Linked DNA regions of Homo sapiens: region 2 is linked to region 1. A link means that fine-mapping ties the variant in region 1 to the expression of a gene that starts in the linked region. Tissue or cell type: macrophages after interferon gamma. Region 1 holds a variant in brackets; the other region holds the start of a gene. All regions are shown on one strand. Distances are from middle to middle.

Region 1 (8,109 bases):
ACTGTATTTGGAGATAGGGCCTTTATGGAGGTAATTAAGGTTAAATGAGGTCATAAGGATGGGGCTTTGATCTGAAAGTATTAGTATCCTGATAAGAAGAGACAAGAGAGAGCTTGCTCTCTCTCTCTATCTCTGTATCTCCTTGCCATGTGAAGACACAGAGAGAAGGTGGCAAATTAGGAAAAGATCTTTTACCGGGAAGCAAATTAGCCAGCACCCTGATTTGGAACTTCTAGCCTCCAGAGCAGTGATAAAATAAATTTCTGTTGCTTAAACCACCCGTTCTATGGTATTTGTTATGAAAGTCTGAGTTAAGTAAGACAGTTCCCAAAATGGCTTTGTCTCTCTCCCTTTTTCACTCACTGGCCCATGCGCCTTCTTGCAGCTTCTGCTCATTTGTCTTTGTCCCAACATTTATTTAAGAAAATAAAAAAGGGCATAAAACATGCTCAAGGATAGATGAGAATGTAACATTTTGCCCAGAGGAAAATTAAATTCCGAGACAGCATTCTGAAGGTGCATATTAAGTGAATTGGTGGGGGAAAATGTAATTTAGGAGACAGTGAAATTGCATTTCAGTGGAGAAGCAGTCATCTCGCAGCAGCACTGTGTCTATCTGGATATCATTTCCATTTCAGTTTCCTGCATGTGTCATGTCCTAGAACTCCCCCACTACATTTCTTTTGAGACCATCAAGAATAGATAACTCAAGAATGATCTGCAGGTCAGTGTACAGGTGAAGGAAGTTTCTAACACTGGAATAAAGATAGGGCAAAAATGAAAATCATAAGCATTACGTTTCTTTTCATTTTTGATCAATTGATTTCCTATAATGTATTAGGCAGTATAATAGGATGTTAGAATCAAAGTTTCAAGACATCAAGATGTAGTAAATTTCAGATATCAAAGTGAGTCAGACCATCCTTTAGGAATTTCAAAGTAGATGGCCAAAAAATTCTCAGAGAGCCTCACTGTCAGTAAGGGATTTAAAAAAATGTGGGTGTTTGAAAATGAGAATATTTTATGAAGAGGAATGCTTTGGAGGAGGTTGTATAAACTTCCCACCCTATATCCTGTTGCTAAGGAGGCAAGGTGGAGAGGTATGTGCTCCTTATTTCGAATTCAAGGGAGGGAGGATTAAGTGGGATCATTCAGAGAGCTTCATGAACAGTCCCTAGAATTGTTAGATACAGTGACTAATATCTGACTCATGCCTGAGAAAGCTAAAAGTGAAGAAGTTATCTAAATCTTCCTGTGGCTTCAAAGTAGAGGAATGGAACTAGAAAGCAACTGCTCTCCCTCCACCCTCTCCACCCACCAATATTGGGCCAATGTGGCAAAAATTCTGGGGCCAGAATGGGAACCTCACCTTAGGAATGTCTATTTAATAAAGGCTCCTGCTCAATACAGTTCTTTACAGAGATTTGAGGTATATAGTGTTAAATAAAGAAAGCCTGCCTCCAGAGATGCATTCCCCATGACAATGGAATTATGGTTGGAGGGTCCCAGCAGAGGTGCCTCTGAAAGAGCACAGACACATGCTTAGAAAAGAGTCACTGTCAAACAGCTATCATGTCCTGAGAGGATGTACCCATTTCCTTTGGCTCTTCCTCTTTTCCCACTCTGTATTCTAATCCAGAAGGAGCAGTGACCTAGGAACAGGGAATAGAAATCCCAGATGGGGAGAGAGAGTTAAAGAATTATACCTCCACTCCTCCAAGGATGGGATATGTTTAATATTGACTCAGGTTTGATTGAAACTTTTGTTATTAGTAGGGACTGGCAGTTTTTGGTTACTGTTGTGCTTATGTAGTAGAGACTGAAGGTTTTTGGTTACTATTGTGCTTGTGAAGTGATAATGAAAACTTTGTTACCCAAAGTGACCATTGATACATCAGGCCATGTAGCCTGATAGATTTCCATCCAGTGGCAGGAGAAGGACAGCTTCCTTTTAGCAAATTCACAGGGACAATGGGAGAGCAAAATAAAGTTGCTTTTAGGATCTCACTCTGTGAGTCCTGTTTGTTCAGCATACTGATGACAGTGGCAAATAATAGGTATATGTTGGGGCCAATGCCCACAAAATTGACTGAATTCAGATCAATATGCCTATCTTCAAAAGGATGAATCACTTCTTTTTTCTTCAAATACAGAAAAACTACTTAGAGCTTTTCAAGGCCACTAAATTCTTAGTTCTGACTTCAGAAAAATATTTGTTTCAGATATGGAAATCAATCTGCCTGTCATTGTCAGCTTCTCTTTCTAGATTAAACCGTCTTTCAATCTCTCCTTTGCTAAAAAGTAATAGTATCAGGCTGTTCTTTGCTCCTGGGAAGTCACTGAAGAGACAATGGTTGTATCCTGCTTTCAAAGGCAGCCTATCATTAGGGTACCCAGAAGTGTACTGTTGGGGTATTAGTTAGGATTCTATAGGGGAACAGAACTAATAGGATAGATGTGTAAGTGAAGCAGAGTTTATTAAGGAGTATTGACTCATATGATCACAAGGTAAGGTCCCACAATAGGCCATCTGCAAGCTGGGGAGCAAGGGAGCCACTCCGAGTCCCAAAGCCTCAAAAGTAGAGAAGCTGACAGTGCAGGCTTCAGTCTGTGGACTCACTGATGTTAAGTCCAAGAGTCATTTATACTCACTAGTGTAAGACCAAGAGTCCAAATGCTGAAGAACTTGGAGTCCAATGTTCAAGGGCAGGAAACGTCCAGCACAGGAGAAAGATGAAGGCCAGAAGACTCAGCAAGTCAGCTCTTTCCACCTTCTTCTGCCGGCTTTATTCTAGCCACGCTGGCAGCCAATTAGATTATGCCCACCCAAATTGAGGGTGGGTCTGCCTTTCCCAGTCCACTGACTCAAATGTTAATCTCCTTTGGCAACACCCTCACAGACACACCAGGAACAAAACTTTGCATCTTTCAATCCAATCAAGTTGACACTCAATATTAACCATCACAGGTACCTAGTGGCCTTCATCATGGTCTTGTGTGAAAGACTCTACACAAAGAGAAATGATAACATTTGAATCAATCAAATCCTTTTTTTTTTTTTTGGTGGGGAGTGGAATTTAGGCTAAGAGACTCAAAGAGAAGTTCTGATTGATTCTGGGTGCTTATGTTGAAAGACACCTGTAATTAACAGCACATCCATACTGTGGAGATTGGAACTGCTGTGCAGGGAGAAAGAGAAATGTTAGGAAGGAGACTTGGGAACCCTTAAAGCAAGAATGACCATTTTGGTCCTTTAGCTATTTTAGTTTTAGTTCCAATTCCATGGACATCATTACAATAGAACCTTCCTTTCATGTAAAGAATCTTCCTTTCCTTTGCCAATAAAGCCTCTGATTAGAAGATTGCCATAAACTTGACTTGGTGGCACTGATTTCATTGCATACCCCACACAATTTTACCCTCAAAATTCACTCAGATCTCAGCTGCTGTGTGATGGGCTTTTGGTTTTCTGCTTATTTTAAGGGCAGTTGACTTTCTAAGTGCTGCTACTGTTTAGCACCTACTATTATTTCAGTTGGTTCTCAATTGTTATTTATTACTTTAATAATTTAATCTGGATTGATTGTCTAAATACCTGTGTCTTCACATGGACAAGCAGACCACCTTCTATATATAGACTTTAAATATGATTATTATGTACATTGCTTAAAGGTGGCTGAGATTGTTTTATTATTGTAGATGTTACTGGCTGATCTTTTCAGCTGATCTTTTTTATTGGAAATCGAGAAAGAAATGCTAATGGAGTAAAAAGGTCTTTTGCTTTAGATTTTGGAAAATTATGTTTAAGGTGGAAATAAATATACTCCATGTAAGGGATTCCTTGAAGAATTATTGTTTAATAACTTTAATTGTTTCCTGTCTCCTCTGTACTTTCACTACTCTCTCCCTGCTCCTAATCTCTGGCATTTGGTCTAGTCAATATTACATATCCCCCAGGGTTACCCTCTGTTTCCCCAGATGCATTAAGGCTTTGAAGTAATCTCGTTTGGAAAGGTAGCATTTTATCCTGGTGTGATATGAGTGTCTGGCTTCTTTAAAACCTTATTAGTAAACTGAGGGTCAAATTTTAAGTCCCAGCCCAACATTACCAAGTAATCTACATGGACCGCTGAAATACCCTCATGATAATGCTTGTAAAGAATGTTGGAGTATGGTAGATGGTACACAGGCTCTAAAGTCATGAGAACTCCCTGATCCTGGATTCCCCACTTAACAGCTCTGTGATACACTGTCTCAAGGATATGTACTTTATCAGCGGGACCAGTAGGAGGCACTAGCTTGCCTTTTTGTGTTGAGTATTTCATATGAAATAGTAGTCAGTGATTCCCTGAGCCACTTTCAGACAGAAAGAAGGAGGAAATTTTATTTAGGGAAATTCTCTCTCTCTCTCTCTCTCTCTCTCTCTCTCTCTCTCTCTCTCTCTC[A/T]CACACACACACACACACACACTCCTCCAGGCAAAAACTTAAAGTACTAAATAACAAAGCTGTTTTGCGTATTTTAACAGAAGATTGTGATCTGGGTATATATGTATACATTATTAGATAACTAATTTTATACTTGGTTCATGTGAGTTGATCTGAAACATTATATTTAAGCTCCTTAAGTACTGTGGATCCCTACAATAGTTAAGGTAATATTACCTGCTGTAACAAATAAACCCCCAAGTCTCAGTGACTTAACACAAGAGAAATTTGTTTCTTGTTCATACAAAGTTCTTTCAGAGGGAACAGGTGTTTAGGCATGTTTGAGTCCTCTGGGCATTCTGAGATTTAGGCTGTAGAGCCTCTGCTGCTCTCTGTGCATGGCTTCCAAGGTTGCTTTAATCATTAGTACTCAGTCACCTGAGAGTAGAAGAGAGTACGATTTACCTGTCAGAGGATTTATGAGCCAGACCTAGAAGTAGCACACATCATTTCTGATAACCTTGGTTATTGGTAGAACTTGGTGACATAAATATACCTTTCTACAAGTGGGGCTGCAAACTATGTCCCCAGGAAAAATAGAGAAGGTTTCTGTGAACACGTAACAATCTCTGTCACAGTCCAACCTTCTGAGAACAAATATCAGTTTCATCTTTCTCTGTCATCTGGAACCACCTCCTCCCCTTCTTTAGTCCAATTCCAGGCCCTTAATACCCGGATGATACACAGTTTTCTTTATAATGTCCAAATGTGGCTTCTCATGAGCTGGCAACTCAACCTGTGGACAAAAAAGACTTGTTATCTTCCTTGTCCCTTTCCCCCCGGTATTCAGGGATGAAGTACGGACACTTTGCGCAATAACTCCGTTCACAATAATACTTCTATTCGTAAGAAGAAAGAATGGGAGACACAGCTCACTGGATTAAGCAATGATGAAACCCTACTGGGCAAACTTTATGAAATCCTTTTGCCAGGCCAGTGGAGGAAGTTCCTGGATTAGATGCTGCTGCTTCTCACTAGGGGCAACATTCTTCCCTTGTCCATTGTTCTCCATGGCTCCTGGCTCTATCATCTGGAAAGTTCTTCCTTATCCATTACCTTCCATGACCACATTCAAAGTGGATGTTGGAGAGTCATCCTCCTTGGTCTTGTACAGGTTTCGTAGTCTATTTTCTCCTCATCAAGTTTAGGAGCCCAAAGGTTGTTCAAAGAAAGGCATTTTTAGTCTGGTCTCCTAGTTTCTTTGACAATCAGCTCCTTCAGATATTTCCATTTAGTTTCTAGTGCCTATAAACATGTTAAAAGTTTTTTCTTATTCATAATTATCAATCTTGATTTTTTTTTTTGCTTCCTTACAACTTAGTAGTTCTACCATGATAGTACCTGAGATAGAAGATCTAGATGGGAAGACCATACCCTAAATCTGTCTTTACCTCAGAACCGAGTTTTAATGAGCCTTTGTTTTTCAAATCCATCTTATCTCTTACTATTTATTTGTTTTTCAAATCCGTCTTATCTCTTAGTATTCATTTGTTTTTCAAATCCATCTTATGTCTTACTATGTATTTGTTTTTCAAATCCATCTTATCACTTACTATTTGGGATGAGGAAGCAATAGACATTTACATACAATTGAGGCAAAAATTTCTGGACTTTCTCCATTCCATTTTGCAAAAAAGCTATCTCTTTAATATCTAGAAAGGAAAAGCCAACTCCCTTTACGTTCCGGTTCTTTGTAAGCCTTTCCCTTAGAGCAGAGGCTGGCAAATTTTTCTGTAAAGTTTCAAATTATATTTTATTTACATTGTGGGCCATATGGTCTTTGAATTCTGCTTTTGTAGTACAAAAGCAATCATAGACAATACGTAAAAAATTAGGGTGGCTGTGTTCCAATAAGCTTTGTTTAAAAAAAAAGGTGATGGGCCAGATTTGGCCTTCAGGGCATAATTTGCTGACCCTGCCATAAAGCTAAGGACTGAATAGGCATGTGGCCAGCCTTCATGTTTTCCCAGGTGAAAGTTGTACTCTTTTTTTTTTTTTTTTTTTTTTTGTGAGTCTCACTTTGTCCCTGAGGCTGAAGTGCAGTTGTGTCATCTTAGCTCATTGCAACCTCTGCATCCTGGTTTCAAGCAATTCTTAGGCCTCAGGCACGCACCACCACACCTGGCTAATTTTTTATATTTTTTGCAGAGATGGGGTTTCACCATGTTGGCCAGGCTTGTCTCGAACTCCTGGCCTCAGGTGATCTGCCCACCTTGGCCTCCCAAAGCGCTGGGATTATAGGCATGAGCCCCCATGTCCAGCCGAAAGTTGTACTCTTGAGAAATAATAACATTCTAAACCACTAACTGACAGAACAGATTCTTCTCTTGGCCAAGGGGACCCCATAGAAAACTTGGAAGCTAAGTTCATGGCATGATGGGATGGGAGGTCCGAAAGGCTTCATGATATTCCCTCCAAGCTCTTAGGCTTTCTTCCCTAAGAGCTAACTAGACACCAGCTTTTTCAAAAAAAGTCCACTCTGATAATATCTACTAGTTTATTTTCCCAGGTACAGAACAAAGAGAAGATGAGAGTAATCATTCCTTCACTCTACGCTGAGATGTCTGCTTCCTCCATTCCTATTTACTTTGTTCACCTTATCTTACATAAAATGTAGATTTACCGAGTACTAACTAAAATCTCACAAGTATGTAATCATTTGTCTCATTGCCGCACCGACTCCTCTACCTTTGTAAAAGAAAATGTATAAATATTAAACCTCCGAGAACCTCTTTGGAAAAACAGCCACAGATGTGTCTGTTACTTGAGTTTTTCCTGGATGCATCCTCAAACTGGCACAATAAACCTTGGTGACTGAGACGTGCCTTTCAATCACTCATTTTGGTTGCCACTATGATTACTACTTTCTTTTCTCCTATTGTACAACCACTAAGCCAATGCCATATGTGCTAAGGTTTTCATTAATGCAACACGCCACTTCCAGTACCAATATTTGTAAGTTAAAATAATGCATTTTTTAAAACGAATAAACTCACAAATGTCAGTGACTAGAAGTTTACGGTGTTGATGCATAGCATCCACACAGCCTGCTATAAGGGGTTGTTGATATTGGGCACACTGCTCCATGCAGACATTCGGGGATCCAGGTTGACAATGGTTCTGTTTTCATCAACACAAACTTTCCTAGTCACCTTCAGGATTGACATCCAGCAAATAGAGGAAGAGAATAGATGATCACTTATGAGAGGTTTTTATGGGCTGTGTGTGAAAATATGTGCAGTACTTCTGCCCACATTCCATTAGCTGGCACACAGATACACTTGATTGCAAAGAAGGTGGGAAAATGTTGTCCAGCTTTATACCCAGGAAGACATAGGCACATATCTTCGTAAGTAGATTTGAATTCTCTACCTCTGTCACTAAATGCATACTAATGATTGAGGCTTTGCACACTAGCTGTGTGACTTCAGACTAGGCTCCGGGCCCATTTCACTTTTCTTATATTAGGCATAAAATCTAAATTAAATGTACAGTGCATAAAAAGATGCCATGTTAGTTGTCAACTAGTAAACACTGAACATGCCTACAGGAATATAGTAAACACCTGTACAGCAGTCTCCTAGTTTTTTATATATTAACATTATATCATATTTGTAAGAAATAG
Region 2 (8,109 bases), 81 kb before region 1:
AGATACCCAAGTGATTTGTAAGCACATTACAGTTTGCTATGTACTGCTTCAGATAATTCAATTAAAAAATTTAAATTTAAAATGTTTTGATATCTTCTATATTTTATAGAAGATAGCAAAAAAGAGTAAGAAAAACACAGATATGTATTTGCCTTACAGGAAGTCTAACTCTAGGGAAGATTATTGAGGGAGAGGAGATTTAAATTCGATACACTAAGGACAGAGAAAAACATCTGCTTCAATAGAAAACTGCACTGTTGAGAGCACAGCCTTTCAGGTTTTCACATTCTGATTACATGGGAAGTCTGATTCTTTCAGCATCTTGGAGCTATTTTACAACTGTCAACTGTAGATAACCAACAGCAATGCAAAATAATTGTCTGTATTCTTGTAAATTCTATCTGCTGAAGGTTCAATGGACTTCCGTCTGACTGTGGAAGCAGCCAATTTTGCCCTCACTTGCACATTTATTTCAATATTCCTGCTCTATAAACATGTCTACTTTTAATTGTCATTTAAACTGGTTATAGCATCTTACCAGTTCCTATTTTAATAATCTTTTAACGCAAGAAAAGATTAATTTGCTCCAAACACTTTGGTCAATATAAAACCTAGTACTCTTCATGGAAGAAAAAAAATCCAGCTTCTTATAGGATAACAAGCAAACCAATAACAAAAACCCCAGTTTTAGAAAGATTCACCATGGTATAAATAAAATCCAGGTTTTCAATACTTTTCAATGTCAAATAATAAAAACACTTTTTGGCAAGTTGAATTTTGCTTGAGCCCTGTGCTGGCTCCTTATTAGCTATAATTTAAAAAATCCTCCCACCCTTGAGTTAGGTAAGACTCAAGGATCCCCCCTTGTTTACCTATGACCAGGCAAAAGAAAGACCCTCCAAATTCTCATTTTTTGCTTCAACTATGAATTTATGAATAATTTGCTGATCTGCTTGGCCCTACAGATCAAGTGGAACAAAATACTTGTTAATCAAACTTTAGTTTCTCTCCTTCCCCCAGGTTCCTGAGCTTTGGCCAACTCTCAGCCAGAGCCAAGGAATAACATTCTCAGATCTACTATTAGATCAAGCCACCCTTATATCCTACTTCCTCACACCAAAACTTTCTAGCACAGTTCACTCCTTGGAGATTCTTGCAGATCTTTTGGTTCTACCCATTGCAAAAGTCCCTTTTCTCCTTTTGTGATAACCCTTTTGAATAAAGTCTCTCCTAAGTCCAGATTTCTTATCTGACATTGTCTTTTAAAAATTCTGCATAGGAGAAAATTAAGACTTTCTGCTGCCTTAGGATTGACATCACTTTACTTTAGTGCCTAAATACAGCATGTTTTGTATTCTAAGATTAACATTTAATATTTTTGTAGCACTACCTAAGAATCAAAAGAGAATGAAATAAATGTAGAATACTTTGATTAGACCTCTCCTACTACCTTAGGCAGTAAACAAAAGTATTTGCTCCTCATACAATTTGAACGCTGCCAGCTCAGGGAATTATCCAGCTTTACTTTAAAACATCAGTAGTTTTAAAGAGTTCTTAAGCATTTTCTCTTGCTGCCCATTACCAAACGGTAAGGAAGGTAGATTAGGTTGAGGAAGCTGAGAAAACTCACACGCGGCCATGATGCTTGCAAGGTCTAGGACATTATCACAGGGGTTTCGGGGTGTTAATGCAGAACACCCCCCCCACCACTAACAAAACAGCAAAACAGCCACTAACAAAACAACAGCAGAGGGAATTGAGGATTAATTAGGGAACTCACTTTTTCTTCCTAAATTTGTAGGGGAGATGCAGAAATACCCGTTCCAATATGTTAATTTCCCTTAACATAGTTTTTTAGTTTGTTACCAGTCTCCTTATTAGTGGGAAAAGTAACATTTAGAGGAAATTTAACAAAACAAAAAATTTACTTCGTTTTTAGGTCAACTGATGTCTCTTTTATGAAAAACATAAAAAAAGTTTTCATGAAATGTTTTATGAAAAAAATTAAAGGCTTTTCTTGGCATAGGGTCTTACAACTTACACAGCGTCTTCCCAGATTATCTCTTATTTAATAAAAATATAATTTAATCTACCCCTACTCCCCAAATCAGGAGCTTTAGTTATGGGTACATACGCCTACAAAAGTCACGCATCCTGCAACTGTGAACTTTTTGTGCCTGTCATCTTCAAATACTGATTACCTATAACATGACAATTGGCCCAAAGGCAAAGAGGAGAGTCTCAATCCTCAGGAAGATCTAGGTACAATAAGAAAGGTAAAGGCAATTTAAAACAAAAATATAGTCCATAACACCATTGAAAAGATTTGGTTCAAGTGTGGTAGTCAGGACATGCCAGGTACAGTGCTTAGGGCAAACATCATTTCAGGAACCTTCATAGCCACCCTGAGGAAAGTACTATCATTCTCATTTACAGATGAAGAAACTCAAGCCTAGAGCTGTTGTTATCATGCCTAACAGAGTGCCCCCAAACCCTGCAATGATTCCCAACCCAACCCTGTAAGAGGCCACATACATTTCTTCCTTAGTTCACGGCTATTTACAAATGACTAAAACCACCAGATCCGTCCAGTGGGCACCTACTAAGTTCATGGTACCGGGATGGAAAAATAAACATTAGCCTTTGGCCTCAAACGGCCAGGGTTGAAAGGATTCTGATTTGAAAAATTAAAAACAAAAATAGCAGAGATAAAGGCTGTCTACGGAGTTCAAGGCCACAATAACCCTAAGTAGTTCACGTCAAAATCGTAGCTTTGAAGGTCCTGGGCCTACAGGACAGGCGACGACCCTCAGAGAGGTCAGAGGCGGCAGAACCTGTGCTGGGCTTTGACACAAGGCGTTGCGTCGCAGATGAACTACGCGGGGGTAGGGGTGAGAGGCCCCGGCCAGCAGCTGGAAATCCCCCTCACGTGTGCGGGCCTCCTCTTCCACCTCTCCCCGGGTTCCCCCGTTACGCCGCCGGGCTCCCTCGCCACCCAGGGGCCTGTCTCCACTCTCCCACTCCTCTCCAGGGCCTCCCCCGTTCCCCTTCCACCTTAGCTTGAGCTCTCCTCCGCCCGGCTTCGGGCAAGATGCGAGTCCACACAGGCCACACTCGACCGACCGCTTCCCAGCCAGTCCCCGCGCTACCACTGAGAGGACGGCAAGCGCGGGCTAGAGGAGCTCAACGCCACCACAAAGAGACGTCCGGGAGAAGCCTAGAGCGGACACGAGGCTGGCCGCCTCCGGGGACGGAAGGGGCGGGGCGGTGTGAAGTGGCAAATGATTCAAGGCGAGGCAAGAGGTGCTTCAGATGCTGTCTTTTGCAGTCCTCCGAGAGGTTAGGGATGTGGGAGGTCCCTGGGGGCCATCTCTTACAAGACACAGTTTCCACTAAATTGGATCGTATTTGTACATCTCTACACCTGTGCGTGATAGTAAACTTTTGCACCCAAATACCCCGACCCCTGAAGGAGAGTGTGAGTTAAAAGGATCTGAAGAACGGACCCTTTGTTTAAGGTCTCACATTCTATTTCTTTAATTCAAGCGAAATATATTCCAAAATGCATCTTTTATTGTAAGCTATAAAAATAGCTATTACTTCGAGTAAAATGTAGGCTCCAGGAAGATGCTTGTAAATTTTCTCAGAACAGAAATGGTATTTTTATTGTATCCTTATTGTCTGTCACAGTATAGGTGCTCATTAATTTTTAAAGTGGGTTTTATTATCTAGAATCCAGGAGAACTGAAAGTCTCTTAAAGATTCTTGGCCTTTTAATTATCTTAAGGTCGGGATAGCAGGGAAACAAAAACTTGTTTTAAACTCCCAGTGAAAAATGAGGAACAGGTAAATAAGACAAGCCCCACCAAGGCCCAAGCGTGCTAGTAATTCTCTGCATCTACTGTAAGCTGTTTTCTGCAGTGCGTCTATGGTCCTCCCACCACTTTCATACTGCTCGCCGACTAGGCAAGCGATTTGATGCCTAGAACTAGGGAATGACAGAAAGGAAAAAACAATGAATAGTTTCTTCAACTGTGTCTGCAGGAGGTTGCATTCTGTAATTCTTTTACTGTTTACTTTGTGGTTGGCACTTTGTTAAGCAATGATTAGACAAAAACAAAATTTATTTCTGCTTCCAAGGAGCTCACAGACTAGTGAGAGAGGAATAAACAGTTAATCACAGTGTGGTGTGAAAAGTGTCATAACAGAAACACATGGATATAAACAGGATAAAATGATAGGGGCTAAAGCAGGAGCGTTCTGGGAGGAGATTAATGCCTGCATGGAACTTAATTTGATGCAATTGTGACTTCCTAGTAAACTAGGCAAGCTATCCTAAAGGTAATGAAACAGAGAAGGCTCACAGATCAAATTAAGATTATTAAATAATATAGCCTATTCAATTTAAGTATCCAGTGAAAAGGTGAAAGAGTTGTGGTAAGTGGACACACTTAGGATAAGGTGCAAGCAAGTGGAAGGACGCCATCACCTGAATCATGGGTTAAGTAATGTTCATATATCCTATCTGCCACAACAGCCTTCTCCGCTGGTGGTATACTTACGAGGACCAGAGGTGAGGTGTCAGCAAGGAGGCCCACAGGTGGAAAGTGCTTTGGGCCAATGGTACACACCTGCTTTATTGGATAGACGCAGAGAAGTATGCCTGGTCACAGCCAGAGCTTACTCGGTAAGTTGTTGAACAGATACAGGTTTTATTTGCATTTCCTGGGCAGAGCACATATGAGACTATTCTAAGTGTGACCAATGGGTGGCTGATTTAGAGGTGACATAGTTAATAGCCCAGAGATGTCATGATTGCTCATTGCTTAGTTTTTCCATCCCTTTTTGGCTATCAGTGACTCTCTATTCCATCATATTTCTATTTAACTTTGGCATGTCTTATAGTTTACTAACTTACTCTATATATTTTACATAATCCTGCCTATGTTTCACAAAGTACATGCTTACTCATATTCTATATTTAAAATATGCTAGGAGTTTTGCATTTATCTCATAAGCTACTAGCTTAGTTACTGTCTATAGTTAACACTTCTTACGCCTTTCATCCATCCCTAAGGAAACTGCAAAGCCTTTCAGTATGGGTAGAGTGGAAAGCTGGAAAGGCGCATAGGTAACAAATAATGCCCTTTTTATGCCATATTAGAGATACTGAATTTTAACCTGTGAAAACTGTAAAACTATCAGGAGTGTAGAGAATAGAAGAGAGGTGCGGTCCTGGGCTAGAGGGCCAGGTGGAAACTCTTGCCCTAACGCAGATGATTAAGAAGAGGGCCTCCATCAAGTGAGGCAGTGGCTCTATGGGTTGAAATGTGATTCCCTCCCACTCACCTCCTCCCACTGGATTTGGTAATGTCTAGAAACATTGTGGCTGTACCAGCAAGGGGTGCTACTAGTATCTAGAGGGGTAAAGGACAGGGTAACTGCTAAACACTTAACAATGCACAGGACAACCTCCCTCCTCCAACAACAAAGAACTAACTGGCTCAAGATTTCAGTAGAGCCAAGATTGAGAAACCCTAAATGAAGGACATTTAAAAGGCATAGAGATGATAGAAGTTAAGTAAGAATTGGTCAGATTTTTTAACTGATTAGATATAGAGGTTAGGAAGTAGTAAATAATTATTTCAGGTTTCTAGCTTGGATAACTGGGAGGTCAAAAGGAGGAATGGGCTAGGGAGAACAGAGATAAGAATTTAAATACTGAATACGCTAAGTTTTCTCAAACTTATCAAATGTACCTCCAAGTGAAGATATACAGCTGGCAGCTGGAAGAAGAGGGCAGGATAAGAGAGGGATCTCAGCTGGAAGATAAGAGTTTTGGGAGATGTTAGTCTGTGAGTGGTAGTTCTATCTTTGGAGCTGGGTGGGATAGGGAAGATGATACCTATGGAATGTATAGGGTAAAATGAGAAAGAATAGGGCTAAAGATTATTCTAAATTTCTGAGCTCTCGTTCTATTTTACTGAATCAGAATCTCGGTCCTCCAAGCCAGTCTACCAGATCATAATATCTGCAGATAAGATCCAAGAATCTGCATTTTTGGCAAGCAACCCAGGTGATTTTGCAGCACACTACGATTTTAGAACAACAGATTTAGGTCTCAGAAAAGTCTGAGAAGGAGCAGACAGCGAGGTAGCAAGAAAACTAGGGAAGAACAGAGACCCACAAACCAAGAAAGGAAAGTTTAAAGCAGGGCTCTGTCGGTGCAAGAGGTTGTTATAGAGCAGTACTGGCCATTAGAAATACAATGTGAGTCACATAAGCCATTGTAAATTTTCTAGTAGTGATATAAAAAGGTAAACAGAAGCAGATGAAATTAATTTTAGAGATAGCGCTTGTTTAACCCAATAATTAAGACATTATCATTTTAACATGCAATTAACATAAAAACTAATGAGATATGTCACGTCCTTTAATTCATATTATGTCTTGGAAACCTGGTGTGTGTATTACACCTCCAGTGCCTCTCAATTTGGTCTAGCTACACTTCAAATATTCAGTAGCCGCATGTGCCTAGTGGCTACCAGAGTGGATAGCACAGGTGTAGAAAGTCAAGTAAGGAAATAACTCATTTTCCAGCTCAGACTGAAATGAACTAGAAGGAAAATAAAAAGAACTAAATATATTCCTTAGCTGTACTAATAAGATAGTTATAGATGGTGTAATAAGACCTGTTTCAGTGATATGGTGATGGTAGAAGTCAGAATATACCCAATTAAAGAGCGGGAAGTTAGAGATGCTAACAGCTACCTGAGAGAACATCTTCAACAAGCTTTACTGTCAAGTATAAAGAGGCACCCCTTTTTTGTGTCTTTGAATGTGAATTTTAAGATTAAAGAACACAATTCAGTTTTAATTTAGGTTTTAGCAATTACATTTGGATTTCTGCTTCTGCAGAATTACCCTATCACTAGAAATATCTGGAAAATTGAGCATAATATGTGAAATGAATTGGGCACGGTAGCTCACAAGTGTAGTCCCAGCTACTGGAGAAGCTGAGATGGGAGTATCACTTGAAAAAAATATATATTTTATATATTACATACATGTATTTACGCATATATATAATATAAAATATATGATATGTATATATCATTTTATATATATTTATATACTGAATATGTTATATATAATATATAAATATATAGATATATAAAATATATGCATATGATAAAATATAATATTTATATTTTATATACATATATAAAATATATATTATAAATATATAATATGTATAAGATATATAATATATACACACATATATACATTCATATAAATCATAAGTATGTATACTTATACATATTTAGGAAAGGGTTGTATATATACATATACACATATATGTATGTATCTATGAAATCATTGTTTTCAGACATTAGCCAACAGGCAGTGCAGTATCGTGATCCCTGAGAGAAGGGAAACGAATGAATTAAGTTCCATAATGACCCCAGCTTACTATCTGGAGGCAGTGTCCAGAGCCTAGAACAGGGAGGGGAACCCAAACAAAAACCGGTGATTTCACTAAATGGAGGCGACAGAGATGGAGGTGACAGAGATGGGAAGTTGGAGAGGCTGATGGGCAGAGTATCTGAGAGGAGGACATGGCACACAGGAGAGTCTTGGACATCTGCAAGAGTGTTCCTTTGTATTGCGTACTTCCCTTTGGCTCTGAGTACTTATCTGTGCAATGGAAGGATGAAACTCCACGAGGCTAGGGAAAAGACACCAAAAAGCAGTGGGCCAAACAGTTTCTAGTACTTACACAGGGCTGGGAATAGTTTGTCTTCCCATAAGCAGGAGCAGATTGACAGACCTTGTAAGAAGCACTTATTTGTTTCTACCAATCAAAGTAACAGTAGGAGCTGGGCCAGGTTGGTCTTTCTCTCTCTCTTTCTGTCTCCACGTGGGCTCTTTGCTTAGGCTAGTTTGGTCTTCCTCACAGCATGACAGCCAGAAGGTAGTTGGATTTATTACATGGTGTCTCAGAGCTCCCAGGGTTTGTGCTCCAGGAAGCAAGGTGAAAGCCTCTTTGCCTTTCATGACTTAGCCCCTGGAAACACATAGCGTCACTTCCACTGAATTCTCTTGGTT

Evidence for each region. PIP is the estimated chance that this variant, and not a neighbour inherited with it, causes the effect.
Region 2: it holds the start of ARL14EP, and the variant in region 1 is fine-mapped to the expression of ARL14EP in macrophages after interferon gamma (Alasoo 2018, PIP 0.93).

Annotation. Positions count from the first base shown.
Region 1 is chr11:30,237,511-30,245,619 of GRCh38, reverse strand. All of the region lies in intron 1 of ARL14EP-DT (ARL14EP divergent transcript), which reads left to right. Among named protein-coding and RNA genes, the nearest start is that of FSHB, 11 kb to the right of the region's middle. The variant A/T (reference allele first, on the strand shown) is at 4,446.
Region 2 is chr11:30,318,148-30,326,256 of GRCh38, reverse strand. It overlaps ARL14EP (ARF like GTPase 14 effector protein), which reads right to left and starts at 3,153. Exons shown (of 4, transcript NM_152316.3): 1 at 3,055-3,153. It overlaps ARL14EP-DT (ARL14EP divergent transcript), which reads left to right and starts at 3,311. Exons shown (of 2, transcript NR_187437.1): 1 at 3,311-3,339. RefSeq lists silencers at 2,924-3,053, 4,708-4,767 and enhancers at 3,124-3,373, 2,886-3,491.